2 linked regions of the Homo sapiens genome follow. The main gene of each other region encodes a partner of the protein of the gene in region 2 in a complex. Each region holds a gene or a part of one and is shown on either strand. Other genes may lie near its edges.

The links. Proteins that work in one complex are often made in the same cells at the same time.
Region 1: NUP98 (region 2) and NUP93 share a complex: the UniProt entries of both Homo sapiens proteins name them as parts of the nuclear pore complex.

The regions. Positions count from the first base shown.
Region 1 is NC_000016.10:56,733,129-56,740,128, reverse strand, and holds part of NUP93 (nuclear pore complex protein Nup93), read right to left. Parts: intron 1-7,000. UniProt on the Homo sapiens protein: Plays a role in the nuclear pore complex (NPC) assembly and/or maintenance. May anchor nucleoporins, but not NUP153 and TPR, to the NPC. During renal development, regulates podocyte migration and proliferation through SMAD4 signaling.
Region 2 is NC_000011.10:3,675,310-3,682,793, reverse strand, and holds part of NUP98 (nuclear pore complex protein Nup98-Nup96 isoform 1 precursor), read left to right. Parts: intron 1-3,085; coding exon 3,086-3,240; intron 3,241-6,173; coding exon 6,174-6,285; intron 6,286-6,417; coding exon 6,418-6,635; 3' UTR 6,636-7,484. UniProt on the Homo sapiens protein: Plays a role in the nuclear pore complex (NPC) assembly and/or maintenance. NUP98 and NUP96 are involved in the bidirectional transport across the NPC. May anchor NUP153 and TPR to the NPC.

The DNA of each region.
Region 1 (7,000 bases), on a different chromosome or scaffold from region 2:
GTCAGCCCCCCGCCTGGCCAGCCGCCCCGTCCGGGAGGGAGGTGGGGGGGTGAGCCCTCCGCCCGGCCAGCCGCCCCGTCTGGGAGGTGAGGGGCGCCTCTGCCCCGCCGCCCCTACTGGGAAGTGAGGAGCCCCTCTGCCCGGCCAGCCGCCCCGTCCGGGAGGGAGGTGGGGGGGGTCGGCCCCCCGCCCGGCCAGCCGCCCCGTCCGGGAGGGAGGTGGGGGGGTCAGCCCCCCGCCTGGCCAGCCGCCCCGTCCGGGAGGGAGGTCGGGGGGTGAGCCCTCCGCCCGGCCAGCCGCCCCGTCTGGGAGGTGAGGGGCGCCTCTGCCCGGCCGCCCCTACTGGGAAGTGAGGAGCCCCTCTGCCCGGCCAGCCGCCCCGTCCGGGAGGGAGGTGGGGGGGTCGGCCCCCCGCCCGGCCAGCCGCCCCGTCCGGGAGGGAGGTGGGGGGGTCAGCCCTCCGCCCGGCCAGCCGCCCCGTCCGGGAGGGAGGTGGGGATGTCGGCCCCCCGCCCGGCCAGCCGCCCCATCCGGGAGGGAGGTGGGGGGGTCAGCCCCCCGCCCGGCCAGCCGCCCCGTCCGGGAGGGAGGTGGGGGGGGGTCAGCCCCCCCGCCCGGCCAGCCGCCCCGTCCGGGAGGTGAGGGGTGCCTCTGCCCGGCCGCCCCTACTGGGAAGTGAGGAGCCCCTCTGCCCGGCCAGCCGCCCCGTCCGGGAGGGAGGTTGGGGGGTCAGCCCCCCGCCCGGCCAGCCGCCCCGTCCGGGAGGGAGGTGGGGGGGGTCAGCCCCCCTGCCCGGCCAGCCGCCCCGTCCGGGAGGTGAGGGGCGCCTCTGCCCGGCCGCCCCTACTGGGAAGTGAGGAGCCCCTCTGCCCGGCCACCACCCCGTCTGGGAGGTGTGCCCAACAGCTCATTGAGAACGGGCCAGGATGACAATGGCGGCTTTGTGGAATAGAAAGGCGGGAAAGGTGGGGAAAAGATTGAGAAATCGGATGGTTGCCGTGTCTGTGTAGAAAGAAGTAGACATGGGAGACTTTTCATTTTGTTCTGCACTAAGAAAAATTCCTCTGCCTTGGGATCCTGTTGATCTGTGACCTTACCCCCAACCCTGTGCTCTCTGAAACATGTGCTGTGTTGTCCACTCAGGATTAAATGGATTAAGGGCGGTGCAAAAAAAAAAAAAAAAGAAATTTAGCATTTAATTTTAAGCAGAAACTCTGCCCTCAAACCTTATTAATCAGACTATGACAGGAGTAAAACACAAGAATGGTGTTCAACATTCTTGTGAATGATTCTTTCTTTTCTCATCCAAGATTGATGAGAAAAACCTCCACCCAAGGTATCAAAAGTTTAATACTGATTCTGTTCTCCTCTCTTTTGAATACATAAACTAGCTAGATGACAATATCATTCCACTTTTTACTATTATCTGTCAGCTGTCAATTACAACAACAACCCCAAAAAAATTAAATCTTGACAGACATCATTGTTTCAGATGCCTCTGGAAGAGAGAGGAGAGGGAAAAAAAAATTGTTGGAAAGTTCTTTACAGCCCTGTGAGACTAAGTAAAAGAGACCTTATCATTATTCAAAAGGTAGAGTTCTGGAGAAAACAAAGACCTAAAATAAATTAACCTAGACAGAAGAAAAAGACTTGGGTGATTTAGTAGCAGTACTGCCCTCAGTGACTCAATGTTTGCAATAAGGAATGGGTAGTATCAGCTTTCCTGATACATAAAATATCACTTGTATTATTTCCTCTTCAATGAGCAAAGAGAAGTAATAACCTGGCATCACAAAGAAAAATAAATTATCCACATAGTAACTTTCTGATAAACTCTTGGCTGTCCAGCAGAAGGCCCAGCTGGGAAGAAAGTGCTGTGGACTACAGCTTGGCTCCATCCCACGCCAGCCCTCTGACCCTGGGGCTGGATCGTCTCTGGATGAGGGGGTTGCTCAGGTGATCTCTAAGGGCCTGCTCACCTTAAAGAATTTACAAATGTGAGATGTTTTAATTCGGTCTTTAAACTTACTTGATGCTTCCTGGGAAACAGCCCCATTTTAGTGGTGATGGAAATTATCTCTACAGAGAACCTTAGGAATGATACTAGTTCTGTCTTACAACTAGCATAAACAGGGGCAGATCACCAAGTCGGCCCCAAAGGGCCTGTGGCTTTGGCTCTGGCTCTGGCTCTTCTCTCTAAACCAATGCTACTCAACTTTGCCCCACAGGGGACATTCAGCAATAGCTAGAGACATTTTTGGTTGTCACAACTTGGGAGGCAGAAGGTGTGCGGATTCTAACAAAAGTCTGGGTCCCTACCATTATAATTTTAAAACCATTGCATTTACAGAATTATCCCACTTGGGCTTTTTATGGCAGTATATTCATACCTTGGTATACCACACACAGCAATGGAAAAGAAACTACAGACTACACAGAACATGGATGAATTTCACAGACATCACAATGAGCTGAAGAAGCCAGATACAAAAAGAAAAAAAAAAAAGCACCGTATGACTCCATTTATATGGATCTTAAAAACAGAAAAAATGAATCTATGGGACTAAAGATCAGAATACTGGTTATCCTTGGGAGTGTAGGGGGAGTGCTGATTGGGAGAAAGCACAGCAGAGCTTTTCGGGTACTAAGGACTGAACTGTATTCTCTCAGAATTCCTGTGTTGAAGCCCTACCCCACAATGTGATGCTATTTGGAGATGGGGTCTTTGGGAAGTAATTAGACTCAGATGAGGTGACGTGGGTGGGGTCTTCAGGATGGGATAAGTGCCCTTAGACACACCAGAAAGCTTGCTTTCCTCCACCTACCTCTCCCCACACATACACATCAAAGAAAGGTCTTGACTACACACTGAGCAGCGAGGAAGAGGGCCCTCACCAGAACCCAACTATGCTGGCATCCTGATCTCGGACTTCCAGCCTCCAAAACTGTGAGGAAATAAATTTCTGTTTAAGCCAGAACAACAGATATTTTGATATTTTATTATGGTGATCTGAGCTGACCAAAGTACCAGAAATGCTTTATATTTCAATATGGACAGTGGTCACATAAGTGAATAAATGTGTAAAAATTCCCTAAGCTGTATACTTAAGGTTGACTCACAGTTTTTTAGAAGGAATAGCAAGAAACAAAGCACTGACTTAGCAAGAAACAACCTAGCATTACCAAGGTGAGAGTTGGGAGACTTTTCTACTTTTCATTTGATTCCCTTGTCAGGGCAAATTCTTTTCCATGAGTATATGTGATCTTACATAATTTTTAATAACTTGTTAATTTTAATATTGCTCTAAATTCCCTACTTCACAGTGTGTGTCTCACCACTGCCCTTGAAGACTCAATGGCAATGACTGTCAAATCCACACCTGCCCCCGTGCACTCAAACTCCAACCGTGAGTTTCCAGGCACCACTGGTGCATCTCCTCTCAAGCACATAACTGTCACACCCACCATGTCTCCAAATGCAGTTATCCACCCCCAACTCCTCCTCCGCCTCTGCCCCTGGCTTCTGTCTCCCAGGTTCTAACTCACCCTGTTCCTTTGCATCTCTGTGTTACCTCAGATTGTTTACTTACAGGTGTCCCTCCACTCTCAGACTCAGAAACCAAACACATGTAGATACATTTTTCCATAGCAAGCAGGCAGGTATTCCTCATTATCCAAACTATTGCTACTCTCTAACTAAAACTCAGGAAACGAAATACTACAGACTCAGATAACATGATATTCCTCACTCTCCAAACTCTCATTACCGAAACAGATTATTTATTTATTTATTTTTGAGATGGAATCTCGCTTTGTTGCCCAGGCTGGAGTGCAATAGCGTGATCTCAGCTCACTGCAACCTCCACCTCCCGGTTTCAAGCAATTCTCCTGCTGACTCAGTCTCCTGGGTAGCTGGGATTACAGGCACGTGCCATCACGCCAGGGTAATTTTTGTATTTTTAGTAGAGATGGTGTTTCACCATGTTGGCTAGGCTGGTCTTGAACTCCTGACCTCAGGTGATCTGCCTGCCTCAGCCTCCCAAAGTGCTGGCCTTACAGGCGTGAGCCACTGCACCCAGCTCCTAAACAGATTTAAATAGCATGGGGTATTTATATTTTTGCAACATCCTCTAACTATTGCTTTCATCCCCATCACTACCACCTAAGGCCAGACCTTCATTCCTTTAAGTCTAAGTCCTTCTTACATGCTAGAACATGGGCTTCCTCCTCCTAGCCCTGCCCCCAACTCTATGCACCCTACTCTCTGTGGCCACCTCTAGCTTCCTTTTTTTTTTTTTTTGAGACGGAGTTTCACTTTTGTCCCCCAGGCTGGAGTGCAATGATGAGATCTCAGCTCACTGCAACTTCCACCTCCCAGGTTCAAGCGATTCTCCTGCCTCAGCCTCCCGAGTAACTGGGATAACAGGCACGCACCACCATGCCCAGCTAATTTTTGGGGTTTCACCATGTTTGCCACGCTGGTCTCGAACTCCTGACCTCAAGTGATCCGCTCGCCTTGGCCTCCCAAAGTGCTAGGAATACAGGCGAGGGCCACTGCGCCCGACCCCATCTCTCTTTCTGACACGGCTGTTGCCCCTGCTCAAAAAACCTCACTGGCTCCCATTCACAGGGATCCATCCAGGTGAGTCACTGCTTTTAACTTTCTACCTCCCAGAATAAACCTTGTGTACCAGTCACTTGATTTACTTGGTCCCTGACTATCCTTGCACATGTCCTGCTCTGTGCCATTTTTCCCAAAAAGAAACACCTACCCAACCTTCCACTGCAGCCCTGAGCTCCAGCCAGCTCCTTCACTCTTTAGCTCGATGACTTTGGGCAAATTAATTACTCTCTCTGGGCCTCATCTGTGAAATGGAAAAATAACTGCATCTCCCTCACCTGTCACAAAGTAACCACTCAATAAACATTAGCTATCATTATTACCACCAACTCAAGTCCTACCTACCAAATGGTCTTCCTCAATACACATTACCTACAGAAAGTTTCCCTCATCTAAATTCCTTTTACTCCATTCATTTATTTGCCCGACATCATCTCCTGAGCTCTGTCTGTGTATGAGTCCCCACTATGGGCTTTATTTGTATAATCTAATGTCATCCTCACAGCAGACCTCTGGTGTCCAAAGGGACCAACTGGTACACAGGTTTTTCAGCAGGGCAACAGCCGTGTCAGAAAGATAGAGATGGGCACAGACAGTAGGGTGCATGGAGTGGGAGGGGTTAGGGGGAGGAAGGCCGTATTCTAGCATCTAACAAAGACTTGGACCTTCCCCATCTTCCTCATTTCAGTAAATAGTATCTTCATGCTAGAAGTTGCTCAGGTCTAAAACCGTGGCATTGTCCTTGACTTCTTTTCTCCTCTTATACCCTACATTAGCAATTCATTTCTACACTACATTTATTCATATATACATGAGTCAGACCCACTTTTTGTCTCTTCTACCACTATCATCCTGGTGCAAGCCACTCTCATGTGTCACATCTGGGTGATATAGTAGCTTCCTGTCTCCCTGTTCTTACTTTGTCCCCTCCCACTTCCCAGTCTGTTCTCCACACCACACTGGGAAGGATCCTCTAAAGGGGCTCAAACCTTCAATAGCCCCCGTCACTCACAGGCTGAGATCCAAAGTCCTTACCCTGTGCTGTGAGGCCTACATGACTGTCCCCGACCCAACTCCTTCTGTTACCACTCTTCCCCAGGATTATGTACTTTGGTCCTATGGCCTTCCACTCTTCTTCAAATATGCTAAATACACTGCTGACTTGGGCTTTCAGTCACTGTTTCCTCTGCATCTGCAGGAATATTCTCCTCCAAAATACCTACCTAGCTAACCCCCTTAATTCCTTCAAATCTCTGCTCAAAGGTTTCCTTTTTAAAGAAGCTTCTCAGCACACCCCAGCTAAAGCAGCCCCACCGTCCACTCTACCACATTTCTGTTTTACCTCGTTGGTAGTATGTTATCAATTTCTGGCATCACATGCCTACCTGTTTGTTCATTTATTGTCTGTCTCCTAACAGGCTCCTTGAGTCTGGGAACCTTGTCTGGTCTGTCCACAGCCCCATTCCCAGTACACTGAACAACAGCACCTAATGCTCAATAAATATGTGTTAAATGAATGAAGGAAGGAAGAGAAGACTATAACTTTGGTGTACCTAACAGATCAATGTAGGAATTTTTGGCAAGGTTTGAGAAAGTTTCTTCTGGCTTTTAGCAACTGTGTATGGGGGATCTAGCTGTTTGAGGACACAGTTGAAGCTATAAAAAAGTATAAAGCTATAAAATATTTCAAACGTTATGTTATTCAGGGGAGAAGAGATGGAGGTATTAACAGACATTAATACAAGGCAAATAAGTGAGCTAGGAGGACTCTAATCTATCAAAACAAAGGGGATTCTCATATCTCTATGTCCAGCCCAACTCTTTTCCCAAGCCAGTATTTCCAACTGTCCACCTAATACCTACACCTGGATGACTCATGGGTGCCTCAAACTACACATGTCCCAAATCAGACTCATCACTTCTCTCTCCTTAGCCACTGCCACCACCAATGCTTCCTTCTCGTGGGTTCCCAGTCTCTTTTCGTAAAACAATTAGCACACAGTCAGGTAAGCCAGGAACCACCTTCAAGTCACCCCAGCGCCCCTTTCACCTCCTCAACACTCAGCCAATCTCAAGCTCTACTTCTCAAACCTTTTGCAAAGTCATACCCTCATCTCTCGCCCCTTCTCTGACTTGCACGCCGACTAAGCCTTCTTGTTCCTCCAATCAACCTCCCCATGGTCAGGGAGGTCTTTCTGAAATGCTTTCCTGCCTTAAGTCCATCAGGGACACCTTCCATCCCCTACAGAATAAGATGCTCATGTTTTGACAGAGCTATAAAGGGTGCTCTCCATAGAACAGACACTGCCACCCTTACTATCCTCATCCCTCGCTGCCTTCCCCCAATTATATACCCTAGCAATTCTCTATTCTTTGGGG
Region 2 (7,484 bases):
AAAGGTTTGGAAAACTGCACAGAGCAAGTATATTAGCACCATTTTTCCAACATATGTTTACTTCATGTCTGTCTCTGTTTCACATTTTGGTGGTTCTCACATTATTTCAGACTTTTTCATTACTATATCTGTTATGGTGATCTGTGAGTAGCAATCTTTGATGTTGCTGTTTTGTTTTGGGGTGCCACCAACTGCATCCATATAAGATGGTCAGTTGATAAATGTGCATATTCTGGCTGCTCCATCAACTGGTCATCCCCATCTCTTTCCCTCTCTTTGGGCCTTCCTATTTCCTAAGACCCAATAATCACGAAATTAGGCCAGTTAATAACCCTACAATGGCCTCTAAATATGTTCAAGTGAAAGGAAGGGTAGCACAACTCTAACTTTAAACAAAAGCTTGAAGTGATTAGGTGTACAGAGAGAAGCATGTTGAAAGCCAAGATAGGACAAAAGATAAGCCTCTTTGCCAAACAGCCAAGTTGTGTTAAAGGAAAGTTCTTGAAGGAAATTTAAAGTGCTACTCCAGTGAACATATAAATGATATGAAAGTGAAACAGCTTTCTGGCTGATGCGGAGAAAGTTTTTGTGATCTGGATAGATGAAACCAGCCACAACATTCCCTTAAGCAAAAGCCTAACCTCCCTTCAGTTCTGTGAAGGCTGAGAGAGGTGAGGAAGCTACAGAAGAAACGTTTGAAGCTAGCAGAAGTTGCTTCATGAAGTTTAAGGAAAGAAGCTGTCTTTCCATTCCATTAAAGTGCAAGGTGAAGCAGGAAGTGCTGATGGAGAAGGTACAGCAAGTTACCCAGAAGATCTAGCTAAGATCATTGATGAAGATGGTTACACTAAACAACAGATTTTCAGTGTAGATGAAACTGCCTTCTATTGAAAGAAGATGCCACCAAGGACTTTCATAGCTAGAGAAGAGAAGTCAATGCCTGGCTTCAAAGCTGCAAAGGACAAGTTAACTCTCCCTTTAGGGCTAATTCAGCTGGTGATGGTAAGCAGAAGCTCATTTACCATTCTAAAAATCCTAGGGCCCTTAAGAATTATGCTGAATCTACTCTGCCTGTGCTCTGTAAACGGAAAAACAAAGCCTGGATGACAGCATATCTGTTTATAGCTCAGTTTACTGAATACTTTAAGCCCACTGTTGAAACCTGCTCAGAAAAAAAAAAAATTTCTTTCAAAATATTACTGCTCATTGATGATGCACCTAGTCAGCCAAGAGTTCTGATGAAGACGTATAAGGAGGTTAATGTTTTTATGCCTGCTAACACATCTACTCTGCAACCCATGGGCAAAGGAGTAATTCAGCTTTCAAGCCTTATTATTTAAGAAATACATTTCATAAGACTATAGCTGCCATATAGATAGCGATTCCTCTGATGGATCTGGGAAAGTAAATGAAAACCTTCTGGAAAGGATTCACCATTGTAGATGTATTTGTAGGCCAGGCACGGTGGCTCGTACCTGTAATCCCAGTACTTTGGGAGGCCAAAGCGGCAGATTGCTTGAGCCCCAGGAGTTCGAGACCAGCCTGGGCAACATGGTGAAACCCAATCTCTACAAAAAATACAAAAATTAGCTGAGCATGGTGGTGCGTGCCTATATTCCCAGCTATTTGGGAGGCTGAGATTGGCGGATCACCTGAGCCTAGGGAGGTTGAGGCTGTAGTGAGCCACGACCATGCCAGTGAACTCCTTCCTGGGCAACACCGTGAGACCCTGTCTGGGGCGGATGGTGGGAGAGGAACATTTGTGATTGGCCAGGCATGGTGTTATGTTCCTGTAATTTCAGCTACTCAGGAGGCTGAGGCAGGAGTACTGCATGAGCCCAGGAGGTTGAGGCTGCAGTGAGCCATGATCACACCACTGCACTCCAGCCTGGGTGACAGAGGGAGATCCTGTCTTAAAGAAAAGAAAAACAAAAAAGAACATTTGGGTCCGGGCATGGTGGCTTACACCTGTAATCCCAGCACTTTGGGGGGCCAAGATGAGTGGATCTCTTGAGCTCAGTAGTTCGAGATTAGGTTGGGCAACATGGTGAAACCCCATCTGTACCAAAAGTACAAAAAAATTAGTCGGGCCTGGTGGCACACACCTGTGGTCGCAGCTATTCGGGAGGCTGAGGTTGGAGGGAGGATCACTTGAGCCTGCGAGGCAGAGGTTGCAGTGAGCCAAGATCGTGCCACTGTGCTCCAGCCTGAGTGAGAGAGTGAGACCCCAACAAAAAAATACACAAAAAACATTTGTGATTCATGGAAGGAGGTCAAAATATCAACATTAAATAACAGGAGTATGGAAGGCATTGAATCCAGCCCTCATGGATGAGTTTGAAGGGTTCAAGACTTTAGTGGGGGAAGTACTTGCAGATGTGATGGAAACAGCAAGATAACTAGAATTAGAAATGGAGCCTGAAGATGTGACTGAACTGGTGTCACTCATGAGGAGTTTGCTTTATAGACAAGCAAAGAAAGCAGTTTCTTGAGATGGAATCTACTCCTGGTGAAGATGCTGTGAACATTGTTGAAATGCCAGCAAAGGATATGGAATATTACTTAAGCTTAGTTGATAAAGCAGCAGCTGGGTTTGAGAGAACTGACTTCAGTTATCTTATTTTAAGAAATTAGCATAGCCATCACAACCTTCAGCAGGCAACACCCTGATCAGTCAGCAGCCATCAGCATCAAGGAAAGACCCTCCACCACCAGAAAGATGACTTGCTGAAGGCTCAAGTGATTAACATTTTTAGCAATAAAATATTTTTAAATTAAGGTATGTATATTGGTTTTTTAGACATAATGCTGTTGCACACTTAATAAGTGACAGTGGTATAGTGTAAACATAACTTTTATATCCACTGGAAAACCAAAAAATTTGTGATTTTATTGTGATACCTGCTTTATTGTGGTGGTCTGAAATGAAACCCACAGTATCTTTGAGGTATGCCTGTATGTGCTTTTACTTCTGAAGTCCAGCCAACATTATTTCTCCTTCCTTTCTGTCTTCCTGCCATGTCTTCTGTACTTTTGGAAACTATGCACTTGTGCAGACATTGTGCTCAATACTTTGTTTCTTCAGATGCCATCATTAATGAGAACTATGACTACCTGAAGGGGTTCTTGGAAGACCTGGCACCTCCAGAGCGCAGCAGCCTAATTCAGGATTGGGAAACATCTGGGCTTGTTTACCTGGACTATATTAGAGTCATTGAAATGCTCCGCCATATACAGCAGGTACCTGAGATCCTGAAACTGCTGCCTGATTTTCCTTTTCTCAGGCCCTTAAATCTTCAGATACCTCACAAGGCCTTAGTATACACTTGAGAATGCACTGACAGAGATAGCACTGTCAAAGCAGGCATCTTGCTGAGGCTCATTTGATATAACCGTTTCTGACAGCTATATCGAAACTTAAAAATGCTATTTTATGTTGATTACCAACTAGTATGTGCAATAGACATTCCTGAGGCTTGTCCATAGACAGTCTCTTCCCCTTGTTCAGTCCTAGTTTGAGTGAGAAGCCCAAAGATGAGAGATAAAATAAGAATGGAGATTTGGTGAGGGTGAGGATAGCTGTTTTACACATCATTTGGCATGTTTTAAAATTGCAAATATGGGTTTTAAAGTCAATGTCTTCGGTCAGTTTTTTTTTTTTTTTTTTTTTTGGAACAGAGTCTTGCTCTGTCATCCAGGCTGGAGTGCAGTGGTGTGATCGTGGCTCACTGCAACCTCTGCCTCCCAGTCTTAAGTGAGTCTCATGCCCCAGCCTCCCAAGTAGCTGGGAGTATAGGGTGTGTGCCACCACACGCAGCTAACTTTTGTATTTTTAGTAGAGATAGTGTTTCACCACATTGGCCAGGCTGGTCTTGAATTCCTGGCCTCAAGTGATCGGCCCACCTTGGCCTCCCAAATTGCTGGGATTACAGGCATGAGCTTACCGCACGCCTGCACGCAGCCTTAAGGTCAGTCTTTGTAGTCGTAAAATGAGTCTCCACTGCTTGCTTATGGTGCAAAAACCAAACTCATTATAATAAATATAGGATTCAAGTCCTTTTAGAGGCTTTTACCTTTCCTGCCTTACTCCTACCACTCTTATTCCACGTTCCAGCCTTGCTAGCCTGCTGTACTCACACTAAATTACTTCTGGTGTTTCTAACAAACCATATTATGTTCCACACTACCTAGCACACTTAAACTCATCCTTTTAAGATCTAGGTTGCTGTTACCCCTACTTCTCTCTGCTTTTCCCCAGAGATAATTAATTGCACTTTCTTACTACCAAGATACTTAGTACATTATTCTACTAGTGCACCTGTCAGACCATATTGTAGTTACTTATTCATATTTTCAGGTTGCTATAAGCCCCTTTTGGGAAGGTCTTTTACGGTTACAGGCAATAGAGTGTAGAGGTTAACAGCTCAAGTTCTGGAAGCAGACTTATAGATTCAATTTGTGGCTTCCAAATTCACTGGCTATGTAATCTTGAGCAAGTTAACTACCTCTCTCGTCTGAAAGAAAAAGGTGGGTGGGGTAGACAGTAGTACAGATTATAGTTCATATTGACAGATTTTCACAAAGATTAAACAAAATCTACATGAAGTGTTTTACATAGTACCTTTCATGTACTAAATGCCTTTTTTTTTTTTTTTTTAGGCAGAGTTTTACTCTGTCACCCAGGCTGGAGGGCAGTGGCACAATCTCAGCTCACTGCATCTCCCAGCTTCAAACAATTCTCCTGCCTCAGCCTCCCCAGTAGCTGGGATTACAGGCGTGTGCCACCACACCCAGCTTTGTGTGTGTGTGTGTGTATTTTAGTAGAGACGGGGTTTCACCATGTTGGCCAGGCTGGTCTCAAACTCCTGACCTCGGCCTCTACTAAATGCTTAATAATTGTTATCTATTATTATCCTCATCAAAGTTCCAACTCCTAGTACAGTGCCTGGCACATAATAGACATAATTCAATGTTTGCTGTACTTTTAGTATGAATCAAGAACATCATTTCTAAATAATCACTTGAAGAAACCACTTTCTCATTGAATATTGAGTAATTCATTCACACAACCTATTATGGAGAACTCACTGTATGCCAAGCACTGTAGTGGGTTTGGGGAATATAAAGGTAAACAGTATGTGTTCTGCCCTTACCAAAATAATGATTTTGTGGGGGAGATACATACAAGTAAAGCAGCAATTACTATAGCTTGATAAGTATAGGGATTAAGCAAAGGGTACTATCAATGTGCCAGCACATAGCTGGATGTGGTGGTGCATGACTGTAATCCTAGTACTTTGGGAGGCTGAGGCAGGAGGATTGCTTGAGACCAGCCTGAGCAACATAACGAGACCCCCCTTCTCCCAAAAAAAAAAAAAAAAAACCTATGTTACATAAAAACTCTCTAGTATTATCTTGTTCTGCTTCTTCTCCTTACCCTACATGTCACCATGTAAATCTCCTTTGAATTCCCACCTTTGGGGGTTTTAGCTGTCTTCTCTTTGCCTGGAAAGCTGAGCTCTCTCCTTGTTATTCAGGTCTCAATTTAAATATGACCTCCTTAAAGAAGCCTCTCTTGGTCCTCCAGTCTCAAGTAGCTATCCAGTTTCTCTCTGCCACATCCACCTGTTTAAATTATCTACATGGCTTGTGATTTTTCAGGATTTATTACTGTTTTGTGTTTTCTTATTTATTTTCTATCAGTTTCATGAGAGCAAATAACCTGTCTTGCTCTTGATCCTCCTGCCCCCTGCACACAGCTTTTTTGGTGTTTTAGAAAAGGCTATAAACTTGGAGTCAGGGGACCTAAATTAAATGTTGGTTCTGGCTGCATTTTTTACTTCCTTGTGTGCTCTTTAGAAGTCATACCATCTCTCTGAACCCAATTTATCTTGATTTTTGGTGCTGTGTTATTAAAGCTTGCTGTATAGTTCGGGATCTCAAGACTTTTCCTAGTCCAAGGCTAGGTAACTGTGTTACCTTCCTCTTGGCTATTACTGCATAATTAGTGCCTTGTCCTCCACTAGATGGTGGTGGCTTGGCCCTGTGTCATCATCTTGGATTTTCCCCTCCCTCACCTCACTGTTGTTTCAAGGTTTTGTGTAGAGTCTATAGGTGGGATTGGAGTGATAGGAACTCCCCTTGGATTAATTGGCTTCTCTGCTTCTTTGTAGGTGGATTGCTCAGGTAATGACCTGGAGCAGTTACACATCAAAGTGACTTCACTGTGCAGTCGGATAGAGCAGATTCAGTGTTACAGTGCTAAAGATCGCCTGGCTCAGTCAGGTAAGCCTCTAACCTCCTCACTCTTTCTGCCTTCTTGCTTCCTGTTTTTATGATTATTACACCCCACCCTCAGTGCCTACCACCCTTCTCCAGACCCCATGCTCAGTGCTTGACTCTAGTTTTTCTCTCTAGACATGGCCAAACGTGTAGCCAACCTGCTGCGCGTGGTGCTGAGTCTGCATCATCCTCCTGATAGAACCTCCGACTCAACACCAGACCCTCAGCGAGTCCCTTTGCGCCTCTTGGCTCCCCACATTGGCCGGCTTCCCATGCCTGAGGACTATGCCATGGACGAACTGCGCAGCCTTACCCAGTCCTATCTGCGAGAACTGGCTGTTGGGAGCCTGTGAGCCCCAGGCACTTTGCATCACAGTCACATGCCCATTCACACCACACAGAGGTTCCCTGCCTTGTTTGGATTGGCACTGTTTGCCATTCTCTGGGTTGGCTGTGGCATCTACCCTCCCTCCCTGCTGCCAGAAGCAGCATCCTCCACTTGTTCAGGGCTTTTCTTAATACTGAACGTAGCATAAGGGCTTCTGGAACCCAGAAGAGGAGACAGTTTACCATCCTCAAGATCATTCAGTGTTTTTCCTTTAAAAAAATGGTCAATAAAGCTCCTTTGGCAGAATCCCCCAAAGAACCAGGGTATTCTTTTTCCATCCCTAGCCATTCTGGATCTTGTGACCCTCCATGCCAACCAGCTTCCCTACTCCTACCCTGGCCCTTTTATACTAGGACTCCTTAGGAGGAGTGAGACAGGTGATAATGGATCCTTAACAGATGAACTATCCACAGAAGGAAGAGGGATCCGTCTCTTAAGTAATTGGTTAGTTAACACTGAATTTTGGAGGCAAAGGAGGGTTGGCCTGAGTTAGGAAACAAAATGGGATCTTTCTGACACACTTAGGGCAGAAGTGAATGCCTGTCACGGAGGGATTGATCTTCAGGGCTGTTTTTGTTCCTGCCTTTAGAGTTCCATGAACACCATACCTTTGCTACTACTATGTGCAGGAACCCTTGGTCACATGTGACATGTCTGTGGGAAGCTCCCAGAGTTTGGTTTGGTCCCTGGTTTTCAGTCTTGCTGAGACTCTGTCTGGATTTGCCTGCAGAGTTTGGATAAAAAATGGCAGGTTGGGTAACCCTCCCTGTTCATCCCATGTTAGCTCCAAAGCATTTCCCACCCTCCATCTACC